Linked DNA regions of Homo sapiens. The protein of the gene in region 3 purifies or fractionates together with the protein of the main gene of each other region. This does not show direct contact. Each region holds a gene or a part of one and is shown on either strand. Other genes may lie near its edges. The genes, in order: LIMD1, SMYD2, GOLGA4 and UTP4.

Evidence for each region.
Region 1: the proteins of GOLGA4 (region 3) and LIMD1 purify together in Homo sapiens (affinity purification with mass spectrometry; 3 studies listed by BioGRID and IntAct, with this or other methods). This does not show direct contact.
Region 2: the proteins of GOLGA4 (region 3) and SMYD2 purify together in Homo sapiens (affinity purification with mass spectrometry; 3 studies listed by BioGRID and IntAct, with this or other methods). This does not show direct contact.
Region 4: the proteins of GOLGA4 (region 3) and UTP4 purify together in Homo sapiens (affinity purification with mass spectrometry; 3 studies listed by BioGRID and IntAct, with this or other methods). This does not show direct contact.

Annotation. Positions count from the first base shown.
Region 1 is NC_000003.12:45,667,724-45,674,756, forward strand, and holds part of LIMD1 (LIM domain-containing protein 1), read left to right. Parts: intron 1-570; coding exon 571-633; intron 634-4,966; coding exon 4,967-5,097; intron 5,098-5,730; coding exon 5,731-5,782; intron 5,783-6,619; coding exon 6,620-6,688; intron 6,689-7,033. UniProt on the Homo sapiens protein: Adapter or scaffold protein which participates in the assembly of numerous protein complexes and is involved in several cellular processes such as cell fate determination, cytoskeletal organization, repression of gene transcription, cell-cell adhesion, cell differentiation, proliferation and migration.
Region 2 is NC_000001.11:214,333,145-214,337,650, forward strand, and holds the end of SMYD2 (N-lysine methyltransferase SMYD2), read left to right. Parts: intron 1-1,055; coding exon 1,056-1,164; intron 1,165-3,559; coding exon 3,560-3,640; 3' UTR 3,641-3,987; downstream 3,988-4,506. UniProt on the Homo sapiens protein: Protein-lysine N-methyltransferase that methylates both histones and non-histone proteins, including p53/TP53 and RB1. Specifically trimethylates histone H3 'Lys-4' (H3K4me3) in vivo. The activity requires interaction with HSP90alpha.
Region 3 is NC_000003.12:37,323,258-37,330,290, forward strand, and holds part of GOLGA4 (golgin subfamily A member 4), read left to right. Parts: intron 1-330; coding exon 331-4,568; intron 4,569-5,158; coding exon 5,159-5,280; intron 5,281-5,705; coding exon 5,706-5,836; intron 5,837-7,033. UniProt on the Homo sapiens protein: Involved in vesicular trafficking at the Golgi apparatus level. May play a role in delivery of transport vesicles containing GPI-linked proteins from the trans-Golgi network through its interaction with MACF1. Involved in endosome-to-Golgi trafficking.
Region 4 is NC_000016.10:69,135,622-69,142,654, forward strand, and holds part of UTP4 (U3 small nucleolar RNA-associated protein 4 homolog), read left to right. Parts: intron 1-1,074; coding exon 1,075-1,266; intron 1,267-2,179; coding exon 2,180-2,264; intron 2,265-4,203; coding exon 4,204-4,293; intron 4,294-6,521; exon of another isoform or gene 6,522-6,569; coding exon of another isoform or gene 6,570-6,678; intron 6,679-7,033. UniProt on the Homo sapiens protein: Ribosome biogenesis factor. Involved in nucleolar processing of pre-18S ribosomal RNA. Part of the small subunit (SSU) processome, first precursor of the small eukaryotic ribosomal subunit.

The DNA.
Region 1 (7,033 bases), 8.3 Mb from region 3:
TACCCTTTGTTGGCTGTGTGACCTTGAAAAGTTCACTTAACCTCTCTGAGCTGCCCTCTGCTTCTATTTGAGGATTCTGGGTAATAATGTAGACCTTGCAGAATTGTTGTAAGCATTAGAGTGATGGTTTCAGAATCCCCTGAAAGGCTTGTGAAAACACAGATTGCCAGAACCCACCCCCTGAGTTTCCAAATCAGTAGGTCTGGAGTGGAGCCCAAGGATTTGCATTTTTTACAAGCTTTCAAGTGATGCCAGGGAACTGCTCTTTGAGAACCACTGAGATGGGATTAAAGCATCTCTATATACAGTCCCTTACATAGAGCCTGGCATGCTGTGGGTGCCCAGACACAGTCATTGTTAGAGTGAGTGGTACTAGTATTTGTGATGGCTTTCGTGGCAGAGAATATTCTATGACTCAGCCCACAGCTGTGTTGTACTTGGGGATGACAGAATTCTGCACAGAGTGACACATCTTTCTGAGAAATTCCTTATAATCCTCTTGGCTGTTGGGGAAGTGGCTGATTCATCTTACCAGTCTGGGTTTAACTTTCTTTTCTTTTTCTTCTGCAGTACTCTGGTTTCCAGCAGTCGGCTGACAGGTGTTTTCTTTGTGGACATCTGATCATGGACATGGTGAGTAGGTCAGCCAAAGAAGAGAACAGCATCTCAGGTGGAGGAGGAGGTGTTCAGAGAAAAAAGAAATTAATAATTGAGGACAGTGTTTCTTATCTTGATTTGTGGTTACAGCTGGGCGCAGTGGCTCATGCCTGTAATCCCAGCACTTTGGGAGGCCGAGGCGGGCGGATCACGAGGTCAGGAGTTTGAGACCAACCAGCCTGGCCAATATGGTGAAACCTTGTCTCTACTAAAAATACAAAAATTTTCCGGGCGTGGTGGTGCATGCCTGTAGTCCCAGCTACTTGAGAGGCCAAGGCAGGAGAATTGTTTGAACCCTGGAGGCGGAGTTTGCAGTGAGCCAAGATCACGCCACTGCACTCCAGCCTGGGCAACAGAGTGAGACTCCACCTCAAAAAAAAAAAAAAAGTCCCTGTAAAGTACAGCTTGCTTGTTCTAATAGAACCCACATTGTTGGCTTTTATTGGAATTAACATCTTTAACCATCTAGAGCACACGCTATCATGTTTCCGATAATGCTTTCTCCTCCTCTGGGCTGTTTGAATCGCACTGGCCTCCCTCTGGCTTCTCTGTGATCCTTGTGGCATCCCAGGTGAGATGCTAAATACAGTCTGTTTTTACTGCAGAAATCTCAGCTACCTTGGAGTCAAATGCAGAAAGCCAGAGGAGCAAAGTTGTTTTTCTCCCTGTGTTATGCCCAGCTCACACCATTACGAAGATGAGTTTTTAGGGCCTGTCATTTAGTTCTGAGACAGCAGAGCAAGGACCAGGTTTTATACATTCCATTCTTTGCTCAGTCACTGGCTCTCTGAGGTTATTTTGGGCTTCAGGTCTTCAGTGGGGACAATTTTTCCCTAGAGGGTTAGGTTATGAGGTTAATGAATACAACATCAAATTGTTCACCATTGGAAACCAGCCTTTAAGAAGTTCTTTAATATACTGATCAGAGGAAATGATTATATAACATACTTTAAGTTGGAAACAGTTAAGTCCCTCTCTAAGCTGACTCATTAATTTCATTCTAGAGAAGATAATTTCTAATTATTAGTATTTTTAATTTTACCTTTTTATTGAGAAATAACTCATAGAGTAAAAGATACTAATCTTAAGTGTACATCTGAACGAGTTTTCACATGTGCATATACCCCTGTAACCACCACCCAGATCAAGATATAGAACACTTCCCAAACTCCAGAAAGTTCCTTCTTGTCTATTCCCACTCAAGACCCCACTCCCACAAAGGCAACCATTATTCCAACTTCTATTGCCAGAAATTCATTTTGCTGGTTTTGGAACTTCATATAAATAGAAACATATAGTATAGACTCTTTCAGGTCTTATTACATATGTTTTTGAGCTTCATCCATGCTGTTACCTGTATTGGTAGTTTATTGATTTGTATTGCTAAGTGGAATTCCATTGTATGGATATAGCACAATTTATTTCTCCATCTCATGTTGATGGGGATTTGGTGGTTTCTAGTTTTTTGCTATTTATGCATGAAGCTGCTGTGAATACTCTTGAACATGTCTTTGATGGACATAAACACTCATTTCTGCTGGTTATATGCTAATATTTATAAAACATCAGTGACCCACAGCCCTCCCCATTCGTGATGAATATCTGCTATCTCCCAGGCTTTGACAGACCTCAGCAGAGGTCTTAGCCCTATTAGAGCCATGTCCTCATTAGTAGCCAAGACCTCCCTGGGAAACGTGGCCCTTCCCCCATGCTCGCAGTGGGAGGTAGGCAGAAGCTACATATGCTTACCTCTCCTTCCCAGGTATCTTCTAGACTCTGTAGGGCTCTATTTCTTTAGCAGAATTTGCCTTTGTTTTTAGTGTCCTTCTGACAAACCTACTTCATATGAAGTCAACATGCTCTGAATTTATGAGTATGATTATACCCTATTCTTAGTTCTAGTAATCCTAAGACTTCTTTGGATAACCTCAGGGTATGTCATTTATCTATTGCTGCATGACAAACCACCCTAAAACTTTGTAGTTTAAAACAATAGTGATTTCTTATTTATCATCATGCTTCATGCTGTGGGTCAGGATTTAGGTCAGGGTTTAGCAGGCCAATTCTTCTGCTCTGTGTGGCATTGGCTGGGGTCTCCTACTTAACTTTGTTCAGCTGGTAGCACAGTTGAACTGGAACATCCAAGATGACCTCTCACCCTCCAGGCCCCTCTCCCTGTAGCCTCTAATCATTCAGTAGTCTAGTTCAGACTTCCTTACAGCAAGAGATAGGAAGTGGAAGCTACCAGTCTTCTTAAGCCTTTGACTCAGAAATCTCAGAACATTGTTTCTTCTGCTTTCTGTTAATTAAAGAAAGTCACAAAGCCAGTTCTGATTCAAGGGGAGGGGGAAATAGTCCCCATCTCTTGATGTGAGATCTCTACCATATGGGATAGTATGAAGTTGAAGCTTCAGTCTTTCAGGTCTTCCCTAGGACTTGAAAACTTTTAGTGAATGTCTAGACAGAACCCCAGCTGTCTAACTCTTTGTGTAAATTGTCTCTCTATATACCCTTTTGTTAATAGAGGGGTACATTCTGGGCTTGCAGGTTAGAACCAGGCATAGTCTCACATAAAAAAAGTATTACAGCTAGTCACAATGCAGCAAAATGGCATCTTTTTCTAATCTTACTTTAGGCACAATGTGGATTAAATTAATTTAAGGATCTCTTTCTGCCAAGACAGCATTCATCTTGGGGAAAATGCATTCCAAGGTCCAAATTGCCAAATGGGTTTTGGAAGCCCAGCCAGTTGTTCTTCCTGTTTTGCCTTACTGCAGATTGAGAGGGCCCTCAAAGGTTAGGGAAACCCAAGAGGGAATGAGGAAGCTTGAAAGCTGAGCATTCAGAGGAAAGCTGGAATAGCACAACGCCCTCCTCTTGCCTTCTTGGCTGGAGCTTGTGCAGTGTGGAGTTATCCGCCTGAGGCTTCCAGGGGAAGGAGCTGTAACACAGCATATCTTTACCCCTGGGTCTCACAGTGTACTGACAAGGCTTCCCCAAATCCAAAATCCCCTTTCTTCAGCCTGTTTGAAGGCTTTCTGTGTGGGCTCCCACTGCTGGATGCTGATGACCGTTCTGTACATTCTTTGCAGATGCATGTTTTGGTGTGACCTTGCTCATGTTGATTCTGTAGTTCAGTTGTTTTTGCTAAGTTTCATGATGCAGGTAATTGCAGAAATGAATCTCCTATTAAGTCAGTGAAGATGCTTTCAACTGCAAATTATAGAAAAAACCCAGACTCAGTTCGAGTTAAACCAATGATCCTCCAACTTTAATATATATCAGAATCACCCTATTAAAATACCAACTGCTGGGCCTTACCCCCAGAGTTTCTGATTCAAGAAATCTGGGATGGGGTCCAAGAATGTGCATTATTAACAAGTTTGCAGGTGATGCTAATGCTGAAGGTCTGGGGCCACACACATTTCGAGGACCACTGACTTCATAGGAATGATATTTTATCTCACCTAAAAAGAGGCTTGGAGGTATGTGGTTCCATGATGAGTTAATTCAGTTACTTACGGACCTCACCAAGGATGTTCTTTCCATCTCTTCTCTTTCCTGCTGTCCATGTCTTGGGTCTGTCCTGGTTTCAGGTTGGCTCTGGCAGTTCCAGGTATCCCATCCAGATCCAGATTAAATGACACTGAGAGGAAGAAGTTTGTGGGGCTTTCCCTCTATTGCGTTTAAAAACAACAACAGAGAAACTTTACTTATTACACTTGGATTTGAGGTCATTGGGTTGAGTCAGAACTTCTAGATTATCATGCTCCAGAGTCAAAGCTGCATAGAAGGGGCATCCAAGAGGCAGAAGTGAAGGGGTTCCTTTTGAGCTCTGCCATTTCCACATGGAATTTCTTTTCATTTTTCCGAGTACTTGCTGCTTCCCAAATCTGGGAAGGATGTATCCTTCTGTGGCCCTGCTTTGCATCGTTTCCCACTTCTTCGTGGTGGATTTTGGCCCTGGGATTGGCCCATCCCTTCCTTACCATCTCTTTCTCTTAAAGAACTATGCAAGAGTTTCCTGTTCTGGGTGAGGGTTGGAAAGGAGCCCTCTTTCCCTGCCAGCTCAGAGACCCTGTGAGAGGCTGCAGGAGAAGGATTCCTGTGTGGTCTCTTCTGTGTATTCATCTAAACAGATTTGCCTTTCCCACCCCATCACCTCTTGCTCTTCTCCTAGGTGAAACTCGGGGGTAAGTGTACTCTGTGTGTGACTGCTCATGTAATCCTTAGGCCTGATGTGTTCCTCTCCCCTTCCACCATCTCATCCTTCCCTATAATCCCCACTGAGTCTTGGTCTCTGCTCCAGATCCTGCAAGCCCTGGGGAAGTCCTACCACCCCGGCTGTTTCCGCTGTGTCATCTGTAATGAGTGTTTGGATGGGGTGCCCTTCACCGTGGACTCAGAGAACAAGATCTACTGTGTCCGAGATTACCACAAGTAAGAAGGGATGGGAGCAGACAGGACCCATTCGTGTAGGCCAAGCTGATCTCAGCAGAGTGAGTGGTGGAAACCGACAAAACTGTGTTTGCCAGCCGCCCTTAGATCACAGTCCAGCAAAGGCTTAATGGTTTTGAGGGGTACAGCAGGGACCTTGGGAGGTTGGTCGATGCCAGTGTTGACAGGAATGGGTTAAAGAATCATGTTTAGTGAAAAAAAAAAAACAACAGAGCACAGAAAAACTAATAATCATATTTGTAGCTAGGCCTCGGGAGGAATCCACCAAGCCCTGTGGCTTCAGCGTTACCTAACTTCACAAGGCCCCTATGCAGTGCTGGTTCCTACCACTCTTGGTTTGCCTGGGCCTGTGCTAGGCACCATGAGAGGTGTAAACAAATCAGTTAGTGCTGTCCCCAGAAGAGTGAGAGGCAGCCAGTGTCCTCATTGCAGCTGGGGAGCAAATACTAAGGCATATTCCACAAAGTGAGCCAGGTACCAGTCATTCTATGAGGGAGGAGAGCAAGGGGCAGGAGGCGGCATGGAGGAAGGCTCCATGTGGATTCCAAGTGCAAGTCTGACTCTGGAATTTGCTCCCAGAAGCAACATTTATTGCTGCTTTGTTTCTCCCCACAGGGTGCTGGCCCCCAAGTGTGCAGCCTGTGGGCTTCCCATCCTTCCACCTGAGGTAAGATGCCCTTCCAGACATGCTCCCAGGGGCTTCTAAGACATGAATATCTCCCTGGGCTCATTTACAAGATCCATGTCCTGTCCTTACAGCTTTTAAGGTATCCTTTTAAAAATCTCAACTCTGGCCTGGTGCAGTGGCTCACGCCTGTAATCCCACCCCTTTTAGGAGGCCCAGGCAGGAAAATTGCTTGAGGCCTGGAGTTTAAGAACAGCCTGGGCAACATAGCAAGACCTCATCTCTACAAAAAATTGTTAAAAATTGGCCAAGTGTGGTGGCATGTGCCTGTAGTCCTAGCTGCTTGAGCCCAAGAGTTTGAGGCTGCAGCGAGCTATGATGGTGCTACTGCATTCCAGCAGGTGACAGCAAGACCTTGTCTCCAAAAAAAAAAAACCAAAAAAAACCCCACTTCACCTTTGAGATAAGTCGTGTCTTCACCCTTCCTTGTTGACTGGCTTCCCCAACCCAGTACCCTTCTTGTGCTGATTTGTCCCCATAACCAGGTCAAACTCCCTTACTTGATACTAATTCTTAGATTAGCAGATGAGGAGAAAGGCTTGTCTTTTCTTCATTTTTTAAAATAAGTGTCCATGTAGGTCTTTCTTTCAGTGTTAACTCTGACATTCTAGAAGGAAGGACTCCTATCCCTCCTACTTCCCCTCTCATCAGCTTAAATGTATTCTTCTTCCAGTAAGTACTCCTGATTTACCTTCTCCTCCCAAGGCCACCTACTTGTTACCCCCAAAACCCTCTTCCCTCCCCACCCCACGGTACATCAAGCCCGACAGCCCCCCTAACAGGCCTCTCCTATGTGTTCTTGCTTTTCTCTGGTCCCAGGGCTCAGATGAGACCATCCGTGTCGTGTCCATGGACAGAGACTACCACGTGGAGTGTTACCACTGCGAGGTAGACCCCTCCCCACCCAGCCCCCAAAGCCCATTGTAGACATCCAAGAGAAAAGCATCCTGCGTTGACTGGGGCAAGAGGCAGTCAACAAGATTCTGGCAAGGGTCAGCCCTCTAGAGCTTCTGTAGGAAATGGAATGAAGGCTGGTTCTTGGGGGAGGTAGGAGAAGATGGAAATGCTCAAGGTATAAAGGTCTTTCTTCTGCATATTCAGAACTATCAAGTCCTGCAACTGTTGGAGCTGCTCTCCCTGAAGCTGCAGAGCTAGGAGGGTCGTGGAGAGCATGGGTTTCAGGTCCTATCTGCGGGCCACATTGTCAGGCAGGTGTGCGATTTGGGGAAGGGA
Region 2 (4,506 bases), on a different chromosome or scaffold from region 3:
ATCTGCTCTTGGAAACAGAATTTGTTAAATTGGGGATAAACTCAAACCTTCCTTTTCTCCTAGAGTGTGTGAGGAAGTGCACTGGCCTCATGCGCAGTTCTCTGTGTGAGATCTGTAGGGAGAGAGGAGCAGACAGACAGCATCCCAGCCCTGTGGTTCTCCCAGCAGGGCCTTGCTCTGCTAGACCCATCTTTATCTGCGTGAGCCCCTCCCGGAAGCCCAGCTCTGGTCTTCTGTGGGGCCGTGGGTCCCAGGGCTGCCTCCTACCCAGGAATACAGCTAGAACATGTCTTTTTGGACTGACTTTCAGGAGACACAGGGTGGAACAGCCTAGCCTTTAAATAAACACCTCTTACACACATGTAAACACACACACTGGCTCACCCACCAGCTGCCTCTGGGCCCTGTTCTTAGGGAAATGGCTGTTTCCCAGGCAGACCCCATCAGTCAGTCTTCAGGTACAGCCGGAGAGAACACTTGCTGTATCTAAAGCCCCTGCTGGACAATGGGGAAAGAACATCCAGAAGACACAGGAAGTGTTCTGACTTCAGAGCACTTAACTGTTTTGCTAAACCAACCCATATCATAGTGTGACAGAAAGCTGGGGTCTTAAGACACATTGGGGTGGGTGGGGGTTGGGTGGGTGGCTGTATGTCTGAGTACCTAAGGTGATAGGCCTAATTGCTGCCTTCATAAATGGGACATTTACTTCACAAGCTGTTTTCCCAGGGTCTTCCTCTGGGTATGTCTGAAATATAAAAATCTGGACTGGGATTGAAGATTGTGTTTACAAATGCTTTTGAATAGGATTTCTCCTGCAGTTGTTACGTAGCTTTTCAGAAACACACAAACTACAAATAATGAACAACATCTGCAATGATTCGGCAGGGTGGCAGCATCCACGCTCTCCACCCAAACCCTGGTGGGATTTGGAGAGGCCGCTGGTGGGCAGAGGTTGGCCCTAAGCATGGCAGCCTCCGGCTTACTGCACCCAGCCTGTGGGGCGGCTCAGTAGCCGCTGACATGGTGGCCTGTTGTCTCTTCTCTTGTTCTAGTAAGCACTATCCTTTGTACTCCCTCAACGTGGCCTCCATGTGGTTGAAGCTAGGGAGACTCTACATGGGCCTGGAACACAAAGCCGCAGGGGAGAAAGCCCTGAAGAAGGTATGTCTGTAACTCGGCCTTAGGATTCCCAGTGGCCAGATGGCCTCCTTAGCGCACCTCCTTCATGCCTCACCAGGCTGAATGGCTGAAGCAGTGGAGGGTGAGCAGCTCTCACCCACCCTCTTGCCGTGGGAGCAGCGGGGGTGGGTCCTGCAGGTGAGGGGGGAGTGAGAGAGTGCACCTCTGCTGTGTTTGTGTCCAGGCCTCCCTCAAAGGGAATGGGTGCCCACATCCAGAGGGCTGGCCGTGATCACAGGCCCAGCCTGTGCCTGGAGGAATTCTCCATTTGTTTGACCTTTGGGATTTTCAGAATGATGATCCCCAGTTGTGAAATCAAGGAGGTAGGATATGGAGAGTTAGGGTTAGGATGTTAGAATTGCGCATTTGCTGTTTCTAAAATGCACTTAATCATCCTCTCAGTTCATTGAGGACCAGTTACATACCAAGACCCTCGTGTGCTTTTCCTTTGAATTCTCACAAAACCGAGAGGCTTTCCTGATGAAGAAAGTGAGGTTCAAGCAGGTTTAAGTGAGTAATAGCCTAGGGTACATGGTGGGGCCTTCATTCAAATGAGGGTCTAAATTGAAAGCTTCGGCTCCTCCCACTCAAGCTGTGATGAAACTGGTGGGGAGCCAGAACCCTGGGCAGCATTCGCCTTTGGTTTGATGGCGGCCCTGTGCTGCCCAGGAGCCAGGCCCCGACCCTCACATCATGGGAGGTCAGAGTCATCATCCTGAGTATTGATTCTCATTGTTTGTGATGTGGAATTCACAGTCAATACAGTGTAATTTAGGGGATAGTCCATTTACTCCTGTAAGAAACTTTATAAAATGCTGGGGCCATGGACAGGGCCTGCAGGCCTAATCTTTCACCTTCTCCAAAGTTTCCCAATAGACTATTTGCGAAGATGGAATAAGGCCCACATCCCAAATAGAAGGGTCAGGGCACAGCCAGGCTGGAAGGGAGCACAGAACAAAATTTTCTGTTTTAAACCATGGAATTTGTCTTCTGAGAATTAGCCATTTGGGTCACAACTGCAAAGTGTGTCAGGTGATTAAGTAATAGATCAATGAAAGCTGGAGCAGATCTGAGCAAGGAACATGAGTCTTGAAATGAATGCCTGGGCAGAGTCGGCACCTGGAACAGGTGATTTCCGAAGGCTTGCACTGTTACTTGGCCTGCCTCCTCTTGGCTTGAGATCTAGGAGGAGAATATATAATAGATAGGAATGCCTGTCATAGTCACAGGCCATTAAAAATTCTCTGGGGGAATACTTTTTTCTCTGAGTAATTTGGCTGAATACAAAAGAGCAAATACATTCTTAGAGATGACATTTGATATAAACTTCCTGTATGCCAGGCGCTGTTCGAAACACTGTATCTGAATTAACAACCCTGAGAGGTAGGTATTATTCCAGTTTTACAGTTCAGGAAAATGAGGCACAGAGTGGTTAAGTAAATTACCCAAGGCCACACAGCTAGGAAATGATTAAACCACTGGAAACTTGACCATGTTACATTGCCTCACTATAAAGAAACCTTAAGTACATTCTCTAGCATCCCTCAATGAAACCTGCTACCTTTCTTTTAAGTTTTTAGAATATGTATTAAAAGGAAAGAGTATGCTTTTCGAAAGGGAAAAATAGTTTAGCTACGTCTTGCAGGTTAGTAATGTCAACTAAAAATCAAAATAGCTTTGATATAAAATTCACTATGGACTTTACCAGCATCACCTATTTTCTGGGTTGAACATAATCAAAAAAATTAGTCCTTAAAGCATGTTTTACTGAAAGATCTAGAATCTTGGGGCAAGAGAATGTCATGAAATCAGTTTCATGACATCGTTTCTCCAGCTGGATATTTTTGCAGAATGTTTTACCTAGCAGTAGACACTGGATGAGTTAGCTACCAGATGGTCTTCTCCTTTTTTAAAAAAAAACCAAGGCCAGGCACGGTGGCTCATGCCTGTAATCCCAGCACTTTGAGAGGCCAAGGCGGGCGGATCACGAGGTCAGGAGATCGAGACCATCCTGGCTAACACAGTGAAACCCCGTGTCTACTAAAAATACAAAAAATTAGCCAGGCATGGTGGTGGGCGCCTGTGGTCCCAGCTACTCGGGAAGCTGAGGCAGGAGAATGGCGTGAACCCGGGATGCGGAGCTTGCAGTGAGCGGAGATCGCACCACTGCACTCCAGCCTGGGCGACAGAGCGAGACTCCGTCTCAAAATAAATAAATAAATTAAAATAAAAACAGGTCCTGGTGGAGAACATAGGCTCTAATGGCCAGTTTGCATCCTGTGCCTTAAAGCAGAGAGATCCAACTTAAAGTTACCCTGGGTGGAGGTGTGAGGAGATTGGCTTCTAGGCTCTCATTGTTTGTCTTGCTTTTTCCTAGGCCATTGCAATCATGGAAGTAGCTCACGGCAAAGATCATCCATATATTTCTGAGATCAAACAGGAAATTGAAAGCCACTGAAACTATGCAGCATTTCAGTTTTCATTTAAACACTTAGTTCAGAAACCTTAAAGGATTTGAATATTTCAAATTGCACACGTCACTCCAGCATCTCTGTAAAATAATTGGAATGAAAATACTTCTTGCACTTAAACACTGCACATGCCGTACTTTGAGGTTAGTCTGAATCTTGAACTTTAATACCAAATTAATTTTGAATGCTTTTGTTTCCTAAGAGATAATGGCATGGTTTCATATGTTATACTTTGGACAGACAGAGTTTTAAAAATGGAATTATTTTTTCTTTCATGCCTCTTGTAATGTTCTGAACAAACTTGAATGATGAAAGTATTAAAGAGATATCAGTATTTGAGGTTTGTATTTTCTTCTGTCTCTGGGGAGGATTTCTCAGTGGTGGTGGGAGCCCAGTCTTGGAGTGAAAGTGACACCTGCTGTCCATAATTCAGCAAGCTCAAGTCTTCTCCATGGGACTGGGGTCGGGCAGCCTCTTTATTCTGCAGTTGCTCTTGTGGGGCTGTGCCTGTGGAGGAAGAAAATGGGAAGAAAGAGAAAAAGGTACACGAAGGAAAGAAAACTATCATCTATCTGTGGTGGAGGAACAGTCCAGTGACCCAAGTGCCCTCCAGCAGGCGAGGTTTTGAATCTGTTCTCTGGTGCCTGGTATTCCTTCAGTGTGTAAAGGTGCTTAGTGCGTGCTTTGCTTTCTTGGCTTTTCTGTCCCCATCTGTCTGAAAGCAGACTTGCCATCTCTCATTCTGTTGATTGTTCTGTGCAGTACTCTCCTTTTTGGAAAAACTCCAGGGTATGCTTGGGAAGGAAAAAAATGTTTTTCCTTACCAACCAACGCTGTGTTGTTGAGTAAACAC
Region 3 (7,033 bases):
CTGGGACTACAGCCGCATGCTACCATGCCCGGCTAATTTTTGTATGTTTTGGTAGAGACAGGGCTTTGCCATGTTGGTCAGGCTGGGTCTCAAACTCCCGGCTTCAAGTGATCTGCTCACCTCGGCCTCCCAAACTGTTGGACTGTGCCTTGCCATAATCTTTTCTTTGTTATATGATTCCTTTAGTAATTGAGCATAGATTCTTTGTCTTTTCTAGTGTTTGGTATGATAATTTTGATCTTCAGGTAGGTGGTAGACATCATGTCTGTGTATCATTGTTAGTAGACAAGTACGTACTTTAATAAAAATGCATCTGTTTTTAATTAACAGAGAATTCTTGAATTGGAAAGTTCTTTGGAAAAAAGCTTACAAGAAAACAAAAATCAGTCAAAAGATTTGGCTGTTCATCTGGAAGCTGAAAAAAATAAGCACAATAAGGAGATTACAGTCATGGTTGAAAAACACAAGACAGAATTGGAAAGCCTTAAGCATCAGCAGGATGCCCTTTGGACTGAAAAACTCCAAGTCTTAAAGCAACAATATCAGACTGAAATGGAAAAACTTAGGGAAAAGTGTGAACAAGAAAAAGAAACATTGTTGAAAGACAAAGAGATTATCTTCCAGGCCCACATAGAAGAAATGAATGAAAAGACTTTAGAAAAGCTTGATGTGAAGCAAACAGAACTAGAATCATTATCTTCTGAACTGTCAGAAGTATTAAAAGCCCGTCACAAACTAGAAGAGGAACTTTCTGTTCTGAAAGATCAAACAGATAAAATGAAGCAGGAATTAGAGGCCAAGATGGATGAACAGAAAAATCATCACCAGCAGCAAGTTGACAGTATCATTAAAGAACACGAGGTATCTATCCAGAGGACTGAGAAGGCATTAAAAGATCAAATTAATCAACTTGAGCTTCTCTTGAAGGAAAGGGACAAGCATTTGAAAGAGCATCAGGCTCATGTAGAAAATTTAGAGGCAGATATTAAAAGGTCTGAAGGGGAACTCCAGCAGGCATCTGCTAAGCTGGACGTTTTTCAGTCTTACCAGAGTGCCACACATGAGCAGACAAAAGCATATGAGGAACAGTTGGCCCAATTGCAGCAGAAGTTGTTGGATTTGGAAACAGAAAGAATTCTTCTTACCAAACAGGTTGCTGAAGTTGAAGCACAAAAGAAAGATGTTTGTACTGAGTTAGATGCTCACAAAATCCAGGTGCAGGACTTAATGCAGCAACTTGAAAAACAAAATAGTGAAATGGAGCAAAAAGTAAAATCTTTAACCCAAGTCTATGAGTCCAAACTTGAAGATGGTAACAAAGAACAGGAACAGACAAAGCAAATCTTGGTGGAAAAGGAAAATATGATTTTACAAATGAGAGAAGGACAGAAGAAAGAAATTGAGATACTCACACAGAAATTGTCAGCCAAGGAGGACAGTATTCATATTTTGAATGAGGAATATGAAACCAAATTTAAAAACCAAGAAAAAAAGATGGAAAAAGTTAAGCAGAAAGCAAAGGAGATGCAAGAAACGTTAAAGAAAAAATTACTGGATCAGGAAGCCAAACTTAAGAAAGAGCTTGAAAATACTGCTCTAGAGCTTAGTCAGAAAGAAAAACAGTTTAATGCCAAAATGCTGGAAATGGCACAGGCTAACTCAGCTGGAATCAGTGATGCAGTGTCAAGACTGGAAACAAACCAAAAAGAACAAATAGAAAGTCTTACTGAGGTTCATCGACGAGAACTCAATGATGTCATATCAATCTGGGAAAAGAAACTTAATCAGCAAGCTGAAGAACTTCAGGAAATACATGAAATCCAATTACAGGAAAAAGAACAAGAGGTAGCAGAACTGAAACAAAAGATCCTCCTATTTGGGTGTGAAAAAGAAGAGATGAACAAGGAAATAACATGGCTGAAGGAAGAAGGTGTTAAGCAGGATACAACATTAAATGAATTACAGGAACAGTTAAAGCAGAAGTCTGCCCATGTGAATTCTCTTGCACAAGATGAAACTAAACTGAAAGCTCATCTTGAAAAGCTAGAGGTTGACTTGAATAAGTCTCTGAAGGAAAATACTTTTCTTCAAGAGCAGCTAGTTGAACTGAAGATGCTGGCAGAAGAAGATAAGCGGAAGGTTTCTGAGTTGACTAGCAAGTTGAAAACCACAGATGAAGAATTCCAGAGTTTGAAATCTTCACATGAAAAAAGTAACAAAAGCCTAGAGGACAAGAGCTTGGAATTTAAAAAACTGTCTGAGGAACTAGCGATTCAGCTAGATATTTGCTGTAAGAAAACCGAAGCCTTATTAGAAGCTAAAACAAATGAGCTAATCAACATTAGTAGTAGTAAAACTAATGCCATTCTTTCTAGGATTTCTCATTGTCAGCACCGTACAACTAAAGTTAAGGAGGCACTGTTAATTAAAACTTGCACAGTTTCTGAATTAGAAGCACAACTTAGACAGTTGACAGAGGAGCAAAATACACTAAATATTTCTTTTCAACAGGCTACTCATCAGTTAGAAGAAAAAGAAAATCAAATTAAGAGCATGAAGGCTGATATTGAAAGTCTTGTAACAGAAAAAGAAGCCTTACAGAAGGAAGGAGGCAATCAGCAACAGGCTGCTTCTGAAAAGGAGTCTTGTATAACACAGTTGAAGAAAGAGTTATCTGAAAACATCAATGCTGTCACATTGATGAAAGAAGAGCTTAAAGAAAAAAAAGTTGAGATTAGCAGTCTTAGTAAACAACTAACTGATTTGAATGTTCAGCTTCAAAATAGCATCAGCCTATCCGAAAAAGAAGCAGCCATTTCATCACTAAGAAAGCAGTATGATGAAGAAAAATGTGAATTGCTGGATCAGGTGCAAGATTTATCTTTTAAAGTTGACACTCTGAGTAAAGAGAAAATTTCTGCTCTTGAGCAGGTAGATGACTGGTCCAATAAATTCTCAGAATGGAAGAAGAAAGCACAGTCAAGATTTACACAGCATCAAAACACTGTTAAAGAATTGCAGATCCAGCTTGAGTTAAAATCAAAGGAAGCTTATGAAAAGGATGAGCAGATAAATTTATTGAAGGAAGAGCTTGATCAGCAAAATAAAAGATTTGATTGTTTAAAGGGTGAAATGGAAGACGACAAGAGCAAGATGGAGAAAAAGGAGTCTAATTTAGAAACAGAGTTAAAGTCTCAAACAGCAAGAATTATGGAATTAGAGGACCATATTACCCAGAAAACTATTGAAATAGAGTCCTTAAATGAAGTTCTTAAAAATTACAATCAACAAAAGGATATTGAACACAAAGAATTGGTTCAGAAACTTCAACATTTTCAAGAGTTAGGAGAAGAAAAGGACAACAGGGTTAAAGAAGCTGAAGAAAAAATCTTAACACTTGAAAACCAAGTTTATTCCATGAAAGCTGAACTTGAAACTAAGAAGAAAGAATTAGAACATGTGAATTTAAGTGTGAAAAGCAAAGAGGAGGAGTTAAAGGCATTGGAAGATAGGCTTGAGTCAGAAAGTGCTGCAAAATTAGCAGAGTTGAAGAGAAAAGCTGAACAAAAAATTGCTGCCATTAAGAAGCAGTTGTTATCTCAAATGGAAGAGAAAGAAGAACAGTATAAAAAAGGTACAGAAAGCCATTTGAGTGAGCTAAATACAAAATTGCAGGAAAGAGAAAGGGAAGTTCACATCTTGGAAGAAAAACTTAAGTCAGTGGAAAGTTCACAGTCAGAAACATTAATTGTACCCAGATCAGCAAAAAATGTGGCAGCATATACTGAACAAGAAGAAGCAGATTCCCAAGGCTGTGTGCAGAAGACATATGAAGAAAAAATCAGTGTTTTACAAAGAAACTTAACTGAAAAAGAAAAGCTATTGCAGAGGGTAGGGCAGGAAAAAGAAGAGACAGTTTCTTCTCATTTTGAAATGCGATGCCAATACCAGGAGCGCTTAATAAAGCTAGAACATGCTGAGGCAAAGCAACATGAAGATCAAAGTATGATAGGTCATCTTCAAGAGGAGCTTGAAGAAAAAAACAAGAAATATTCCTTGATAGTAGCCCAGCATGTGGAAAAAGAAGGAGGTAAAAATAACATACAGGCAAAGCAAAACTTGGAAAATGTGTTTGACGACGTCCAGAAAACCCTCCAGGAGAAGGAACTAACCTGTCAGATTTTGGAGCAAAAGATAAAAGAGCTGGATTCCTGCTTAGTAAGACAGAAAGAAGTACATAGAGTTGAAATGGAAGAGTTGACCTCAAAATATGAAAAATTACAGGCTTTACAACAGATGGATGGAAGAAATAAACCCACAGAACTTTTGGAAGAAAACACTGAAGAAAAGTCCAAATCACATTTGGTCCAACCCAAATTGCTTAGTAACATGGAAGCCCAGCACAATGATCTGGAGTTTAAATTAGCCGGGGCAGAACGGGAGAAACAGAAACTGGGCAAGGAGATTGTTAGATTGCAGAAAGACCTTCGAATGTTGAGAAAGGAGCATCAGCAAGAATTGGAAATACTAAAGAAAGAATATGATCAAGAAAGGGAAGAGAAAATCAAGTAAGTTTTATTTCAGCTTGAATATTTTTATGGCAGTCCTTCTTAATTAAGTCTCCTTTTTTTGTGCCTAATACAGTTATTTTAAATTATTTGGATAAGTTTCACCAACCCAAAATATTAAACATAAATCCAATATGTTAAATATGAGGAGAAATAAAAACAATTTAGGGCAAGTGGCAGTGTTATTCCATGTCCATTTAGGAGAGAAAAACCTTTTCTTGCATATAAGATTCTGGTTATTAGGGACATATCCAAGTAATTATTTTCTTTTTGTTTTGTTGTTTTTAGTATTAGCATTATTATTATATAACATAGATGTGTTTTGAAAAAAAAATTAAAGTGGAAAACAAAAATTCTCTGGTCCCCAGGACCACTACTTAGAGGTAATCATAGTTGATATGTACCTGGACACACACACACACACACACACACACACACACACACTCACTCTCACACTCTCTCTCTCTCTCTCTCTCAAAAATGTTTTCATACAATGAACTCATACTGTATGCACTGTTTTAAAGACCAGGTAGCTCCTTGCAGCTTGTTCTTTGTGTGGCAGCAGTTAACGGTACATTTTTATTACTCAGACAGGAGCAGGAAGATCTTGAACTGAAGCACAATTCCACATTAAAACAGCTGATGAGGGAGTTTAATACACAGCTGGCACAAAAGGAACAAGAGCTGGAAATGACCATAAAAGAAACTATCAGTAAGTAAAATTAAGTTCCATAAGGAACAATTATATCAGCAGAGGCTATAATTTAAGCTTATCATTTTTGCAGTGGTGGTAAGTGCATTAAGTCATTAAACTGGGGAAGAAATAATCCTTGCCCAATAACATTCTCTAATGGGAACCTGCCCTGCTTGGCAATGACTTACCTTAAGGAGAGAGGGAGCAGGTAAAACAATCTGAAAGTATTAGCTAATTAATTACCTTGTAAAGACACTTTTGCTCAGGGAGAGGATACATTTGATCACTGTTGAGCTAGATGTCTCATTAAACATCTTAAAATGCTTATATAAAATTAAATTTCATCAAAATTAATTGGAATGAGAGTTGTTACTGAAATTGAGATACAAATATTAACTCTTGACTAATGTGTTTTCTTGTGTGTGTTCATTTTTATTTATTAGATAAGGCCCAGGAGGTGGAGGCTGAACTTTTAGAAAGCCATCAAGAAGAGACAAATCAGTTACTTAAAAAAATTGCTGAGAAAGATGATGATCTAAAACGAACAGCCAAAAGATATGAAGAAATCCTTGATGTTTGTACCTTATTTCTTCTCTCTCACTTTTGAAATTTAGCTGTAATAGATTTCATGGTAGTGCCAAAGATTTCCTTTTCAAATGTGTTTTTTGAACGAAAAGGGTTTTTTTTTTTGACTCAATATTATTCAAATTAGTACTGTTATATGCAGATTTATAAAGTTGAGTTGATTTCTGCCAGGATTGTAGTTTCCTGATGAGATTCTGCTAACTAGGCAGCACAGTCCCCTTGCTAGTATTGAAGCAACAGTAGATACTAAAAGGAAGAATAGATTCTTTCCCATCTGCCTCACAGATTCTGACTGAACTGTGAGGGGAACCAGACTAAGAATCAAGACCCTGTGCTTCGGTGAAGTCTAAGTAATGGGATAGTGAGTGTGTATTTAAATGTGGCTGCTTAACTTAGCTGGAATCTTTCTGGGAGGGACAATCAACTTTACTCTTATCTCTACCCAGTGTGTGGAGGTTGATTGGTCTCAAGAGAAGAAAGCTGGGAAAAAATGGAATGCATAAGCCAAATCTTTTATATTTAGTGGAAGGTTATTTCAAAATACTTACTCTACTAATGCCATGTTGCAATTCACAGAATATGCCACTAATGCATTGCCATTAGCAAAATAAGATAAGCCATGAAGATACACCATGAAGATAAATCATAAATGCTAGTTAGTACTTTGGACTAACATTTGAAAATGTTTTCAAATGTAATACAATATAAATTGTTCTTGGTTGGGTTACAGATTCTGTAGTTGCTCTAAGCCTTATTTCACTATATGCTAAGAATCTTTTGGTGATTAAGAATTCATAAATCAAAGAATCATACCTCAGCTGACTATGTCAGCAGAAGTCTGAGTCGGGAACAGATTCTAATAATTATTTTAAATGTAATTGAAATGGCTAGAATTCCAAGATATAACACATGCCTATAAATGCCACCTTTTATAATTCTTGAGCTTTATATGTCATTATGAAAAGATTTAAATAATTTCACATTTTCTTATACTTCCATAGAGGATATATGTGCTAAATGAAAAAAAAAAAGTATTATTTCTTGAATGCCTAGAGAGTGTTGGAAGATACAGTAAAGCTAGTTTAGTTCTACTTTTTTTTTTTCTGTTTTTGTTTTTCAGAAGGAAAAGCCAGTTCAGTGTAGTTAAGTAATTTCCCTAAAACTACATAGTGGTAGAGCAGTGATT
Region 4 (7,033 bases), on a different chromosome or scaffold from region 3:
GGAAGGATCGCTTGAGCTCAGGAGGTTGAGGCTACATTGAGCCAAGATCGTGCCACTGCACTCCAGTCTGGGTGACAAAATGAGACCCTGTGTCAAAAAAAATAAATAAATAAAAGTGGGCCTGATGCGGTGGCTCACTCATGGCTGTAATCCCAGCAGTTTGGGAGGCCAAGGTGGGCAGATCACCTGAGGTCGGGAATTCGAGACCAGCCTGACCAACATGGAGAAACCCCGTCTCTACTAAAAATACAAAAAAAAATAGCGGGACGTGGTGGCACATGCCTGTAATCCCAGCTACTCAGGATGCTAAGGCAGGGGAATCGCTTGAACCCGGGAGTCGGAGGTTGCAGTGAGCTGAGATGGCGCCATTGCACTGCAGCCTGGGCAATAAGAGCGAAACTCTGTCTCCAAAAAACAAAAAAGTGAAAGAATATGAGCATATGAGCTAGGAGTAAGGAGACCTTCATTTGCCTCATGCAATTGACTTTGGCACTTTTGGCAACCTACTTAACCCATGTATATCTTGGCCTTTTCAAGTTGAAATAGGAAAAATTATACCTACTTAGTTCCTTTTTCGTCAAGCAGGTCTAAGCATAAAATGCCTTGATAGCTACGAAAACTTTTGGGTTGGGTGCAGTGGCTCACGCCTATAATCCCAGGACTTTGGGAGGCCAAGGCTCACTGCAGCCTCCGCCTCCCAGGCTCAAACAATCCTCCCCCGTCAGCCTCCGTAGTAGCTGGGACTATAAGTGTGTGCCACCACACCCGGCTACTTTTTATATTTTTTGTAGAGACAGTGTCTCACTCTGTCGTCCAGGCTGGAATGCAGTTCAAACCTTTTCTGCTGAAAATGTTTTGCCGAACTAGTCCTAGTAAAAGAAACAAATTTAACTGTATAAAAGTAATTAGAATTTGAGCTGAAAAAATGAAAATGTCATTAGGCATGATCTGATAGCACAAAACCCCACACTAGTTATTTATGGGGAAGTTGTTTTTACCATGTTGCCTGTGACCACTCAGTACCGGTACCTGATGAATTTGTGGTAATGTTGAGAAGTTATGGTGTTTCTGCAGTTTTTCCCAGGTCATGAGTCTCGGGCTACAGAAGCTTTGTGCTGGGCAGAAGGACAGCGACTCTTTAGTGCTGGGCTCAATGGCGAGATTATGGAGTATGATTTACAGGCGTTAAACATCAAGTATGCTATGGATGCCTTTGGAGGACCTATTTGGAGCATGGCTGCCAGCCCCAGTGGCTCTCAACTTTTGGTTAGTAAGCAACTATTGGTAATTCAAACCAAAATTTCTCTCGTGCCTGCTCAGACTTTCTTCCCTGTGCTCATAGGAGAGTAACGATATATTATGGCATGTGGCAACCCCAACTATAAGATTGGAATTGATAGTGAAGATTTTAAAAATCCCCAGCATTCTTTTTGCTACTAGTCTGGACCTTGTTGATTCATTTATGAAATGAGAGGATTACATCAGTTCAACATTTCCCAAACTGTGTTCTGTGGAATTTGGAGATGTAGAGGTTTTTTTGTTTTGGTTTGTTTTGTGTTTTATGGTAAATTTCATTTCACAAATACAGCATATTTAATCCTGCTGTAAATTCACAATGCACATCGGTACATGAAGAGTTCTGAGAGTCCCTTCAGCAAGTTAACCTGTGCACTTGTGTTTCAGCCCAGTGTTTCTCAAAAATATGACCACACACTGAGCCCCTTCCCATAATTACCATTAGAGTGGGTGCTTCCAGATCTTTAATTCTGTGATGAGTCTGATTATTTTTGATCTGCACTAATTTGCACGATATCTGAAGGTGTTTCCATTTAGGTTATAATGTTAGTAGGTCTTTTATTTAGGCCAAGGGTCTCTAGCAGAAGTATTCTATGAAATCCTACTTCTAATCCATGTCATACAGAGGAATGGGGCCACTAATTAGAACTCTTAATATCAGTCTGTTTTCTGTCTAGGATATGAAGGCTACTGAGAATACACTATTAGTTTCTTGATAACTAGTACTTTCTCTCACAAATGATTTTTCTTTTTCACGGCAACTGATAGCTTTAAGGAGGAAGAGAGAATAGAGAGAGTGTGTGTTGGGGGGTGTGTGTGTGTGTTTAGTCCTATAAAATGTTTACTATTGATTTTTTCTGTTTACTACCTCTTTCTCAAATAGGTTGGTTGTGAAGATGGATCTGTGAAACTATTTCAAATTACCCCAGACAAAATCCAGTTTGAAAGAAATTTTGATCGGCAGAAAAGTAAGCGTCATTTTTCATGGGGCGGTAAATAGCCTTAACAAGAAATTAAGTTTCTGTGCCACTGGGGATGGGATATTTTCCCATGAATCCAGGTAATATTTTATCTCTACTGGGTACAGGGAGGGTATGTGCTAGAAGCCATCCCCAGCCCAGGCTTTACCCATTGTATAGCATAGTTGTGACTGCTTGGTTAAGTAATAATATAGAAAACCAGAAATCCAAAATTGGAAAGCTAGTGTTTCTGTGGAAGTCAATTTGTTAGTTATCACTTACTTTTGTGATGTTTTAACAAGCGTACATGAAGTCTTGAACTACAATTTTGTCATTAGGAACTATGGTTCTTTTCTTTCTTTTTTTTTTTTTTTCTGGAGGCAGAGTGTCACTCTGTCATCCATGCTGGCAGTGGCGGTGGCATGATCTCGGCTCACTGTAATCTCCGCCTCCCGGCTTCAAGTGATTCTGGTGCCTCAGCCTCCCAAGTGACTGGGATTCCAGGCACGTGCCATCGTGCCCTGCTAATTTTCGTATTTTTAGTAGAGACAGGATTTCACCATGTTGGCCAGGCTGGTCTCGAACTCTTGGTCTTACTCAAGTGATCCACCTGCCTTGGCCTCAAGTGCTGGGATTACAGGCCTGAGCCACTTGCCCTGGCCAAGGAACTGTGGTTCTTAATCCTTCTGGTGCATTCAAGTTGAATGAGGGAGTTTATAAACAGTTGCCCATCCTTGGGCTCCACCTGGGCTGAATTGGCATTGACCCTTTAGAACAGGGGTTGGCAGACTGTTTCTGTAAAGGACCAGATAGTAAACATTTTAGGCTTTGCCAAACCTACATTGTCTGCCAACTCTGTCAGTGTAGTGCAAAAGCAGCCATAGACGATACTGAAACTAATGGGCAGGCTGTGCTCCAGTAAAAACTTTATTTACAAAAACAAGCAGTGGGCCTGATTTGGCCTGTGGGCCACAGTTTGGTGACCCATCTTCTAGAATAGCAAATGTCCTCTGTGTCCATTAGTAATACTTATCCTCTGCTAATCAGATTCTTGCTTCGTTTTTAATATATCTTGGGTGCTCTTTTTTTTTTTTTTTTTTTTTTTTTCCTGAGATGGAGTCTTGCTTTGTCGCCCAGGCTGAAGTGCTGTGGCGTGATTTTGGCTCAATGTAACCTCTGCCTCCTGGGTTCAAGCAATTCTCCTGCCTCAGCCTCCCTAGTAGCTGGGACTACAGGTGCGTGCCACCATGCCCGGCTAGTTTTTGTGTTTTTAGTAGAGACGGGGTTTCACCATGTTGGCCAGGCTGGTCTTGACCTCCTGACCTCGTGATCCACCCACCTCGGCCTCCTGAAGTGGTGGGATTACAGACATGAGCAACTGCACCCGGCCTGGGTGTTCTTTCTCAATTACAAAGGTAATACAATGCTTTTTAAAAATCTCATACATTTTGTCAAGTATGAAATAGAAAATAGGTGTCTCAGCTGGGCACGATGGCTTACACCTGTAATCCCAGTACTTTGGGAGGCTGAGGCGGGTGGATCACTTGAGGTCAGGAGTTCGAAACCAGCGTGGCCAACATGGTGAAACCCCATCTCCACTAAAAATACAAAAATTAGCCAGACATGGTGGCAGGTGCCTGTAATCTCAGCTACTAGGGAGGCTGAGGCAGGAGAATCACTTGAACCTGGGAGGCGGAGGTTGCAGTGAGCCGAGATCCCACTGCGGCACTCCAGCCTGGGCGACAGAGGAGACTCCGTCTCAAAAATAAATAAATAAATAAATAAATAAATAAATAAATAAATAAATAAAATGGTGCTTCAAGGAGTACTATAGATGAGAGAGCTAAGATTGTAGAACACTCTAGAGATAGTTGTGGGAAGAGAGCTCAGTTACTCTTCGTATATTTATGTGTATGTCACTTTCTTTTTTTGTTGTCCAACTCCCAAGGTCGCATCCTGAGTCTCAGCTGGCATCCCTCTGGTACCCACATTGCAGCTGGTTCCATAGACTACATTAGTGTGTTTGATGTCAAATCAGGTGATTGTTTTTTTCAGTTCATTTGGGGTGTGGGTTTTGTCAGATTCACATTTCTGAGTTTTCAAAAGCTTGAGCCTTTGTCATGGTTTCATGACCTTTATGGCCTAACATGTCATTAATCTTCTGAGATGTCCACAATTAATTTTACTCCTTTCTTGGATTACTACCACTGCTTTTAGGGGAATCTTGGATCTTCAGTAAGATATAGTATTTTTCATTCATCGTAATAAGAATTCACAATAAAATACTCTGAACTAGTACATTCGTGTACTATAAACAGTAGAATTACCTATTTATAGATCCCAGTCCTTGGTAAAAATGGGCTTCTGTCATTGAGGAACATAAGATTTTTGTAGCATAATTGGTGAAACATGAGATCAGAAAAGCAGAGAACCATGATATTTTCTGTTCTTGGCCTGGAAAATTGGCTTCATAGAATCCTTCATTGATAGGGTTGATCTCAACTTGTTAGGTGGACATGTCTGTATTTCCGTCTGAGATGCAGAGATAAAACAGGTTGGCTGGGCGCGGTGGCTCATGCCTGTAATCCCAGCACTTTGGGAGGCCGAGGTGGGTGGATCACCTGAGGTCGGGAGTTCAAGACCAGCCTGACCAACATGGAGAAACCCTGTCTCTACTAAAAATACAAAATTAGCCGGGGTGGTGGTGCATGCCTGTATTCCCATCAACTCAGGAAGCTGAGGCAGGAGAATCGCCCCATTGCACTCCAGCCTGACAACAAGAGTGAAACTGCGTCTCAAAAAAAAAAAATCCCTTAAGCTTATTACAAAAAAGAGGGAGTCCTTCTATATCTCTCTCACTCTCCTCGAGGCAACCACTTGTGACCCTTAGCTGATTCTTTTGGTATCTATCACTGCAGATCCTAGCATGCTTTTTATGCTACATTTTGATTTTTCAGCTTTAGACCATTTTTTACTGACTTCTGCAACTTGCCCCTCTTTTTCTACCGTCTGCCACAGGCATCCACACTTCCTCCCGATCCTCCCAGTATGGTTATATTATAACTTTGTTCAAATTAGTAATTGATGTTTTCATTATTATGACTATGTATATACTACTCACATAGTAAATTTTCTTTCTTTTCCGGTATACTTATTGTTTAATAGTGTCTCTGTCTCTCTGTCTTACTGATACATTCCCACATTTTTCCAGTTGCATAAATTAGGTTCAAGTCCATCTGATTTTCTTTCTCCACTTTTATCTTTGTGAATAAGTCCCTCCCGGTGCCTTCTGACCCACTCCCATCTGGCTTAGCCACTCTGGGCCTGCTGCACAGCTGTGAGATCTGAAACTCTGATTGATTTTTCCATTGTTCTCGGGATCTCCTTTGCTTCTCTATCGGATAGGATCTCCCATTTCTGTGTTATTCACTTTCTTGGTTTACCCTTTGGTGGATCCTGAGTAAGAGTGCATGAGAAAGAATTCTAGGTTGGAAATTCTTTTCCCTTAGAATTCTGAAGCCCTGGCTCCGCTGTCTTCCAGCTCCTCGTATTATTAGCAAGTAAGCTGCCATTCTGAGAGTTATCCCTTTGTGTAGGACCTGTTTTATTTTTTTTTCCCCCAGGAGCTTTTAGGATGTTTTATCCTTACTGTTATGAAATGTAATAATTAGGTTTCTTGGTATGTGGATCAATTAATTGTTCTGGACACCTGGTAGGTTCTTCTAATCCAATACCCACGTCCTTCAGTTCTGGGGGGAAATTCTTTTACTCTTATTTTTCATTTCTTTGTCTTTTTACTATGCTTTCTGGGAGAGTTTGTCTTTTTTATCTTTGAATCCTCTATTGAGTTTTTCATTTTTGACATTTCCAGAGTTCTTTTTTTTCGTGAATCTTCTTTTTTACAGCATTCTCTTTATGTTTCATTATACAGAAACTCTTCTCTTTCTTTTTTTATTTTATTTTATTTTATTATTATTATACTTTAAGTTTTAGGGTACATGTGCACAATGTGCAGGTTAGTTACATATGTATACATGTGCCATGCTGGTGTGCTGCACCCATTAACTCGTCATTTAGCGTTAGGTATATCTCCTAATGCTATCCCTCCCCCCTCCCCTCACCCCGAAACTCTTCTCTAAGGCTATTAATAATTGTCAAGTGTTTTTCACTCTGCCTGTTTCTTCCCTGTTATTCATTTATTTGTTTCTGTTAGTCCGTTTGGCCTCTGCCTTTCATGTTAAAGGCTTTCCTCATGTCTGGTGATCATCTCATCACTGCATCATGTGGCTTACTGAGCTTGGGTTTCACTGAAGAATGATCTGGCTGGACTGCTTATTTGGGGTAGCCCTGAAGCCAGAATCTTCAGATCTTTTCTTTTGTGTCAGTTATGTTCCTCAGAAATGGTTTTTCATTCTCCTGCCTGGTGAGTATTGGCCTGGCTATCAGCATTCTAAGGGGAAAAAAAAGAATGGTGTTCTCAACATTCAGTGAGAAATGTTCACTTAATCCTGGTTTTCATATACTGCTTCTGCCTGATAGCCCTCCTCAGACAACGTCTCCAGTATTCTGCTGACGTGCATTTTGGGAGCTTCCCACCTTCTTAGTCAGGGCATGGCTATCTGAGGGGTCTACCAGCTGTTAACGGATCCCTCTTTGAAGCCCCACTTACTCCTTTTCTAGAATATCTGGGGTCCCCAATTCCTGAGTCCAAGGATTCCATAGTATAAATCAGGTGGCTTCTTGGCTTTCCTCTCTGCCGACCTGGGACTTAGTTTCAG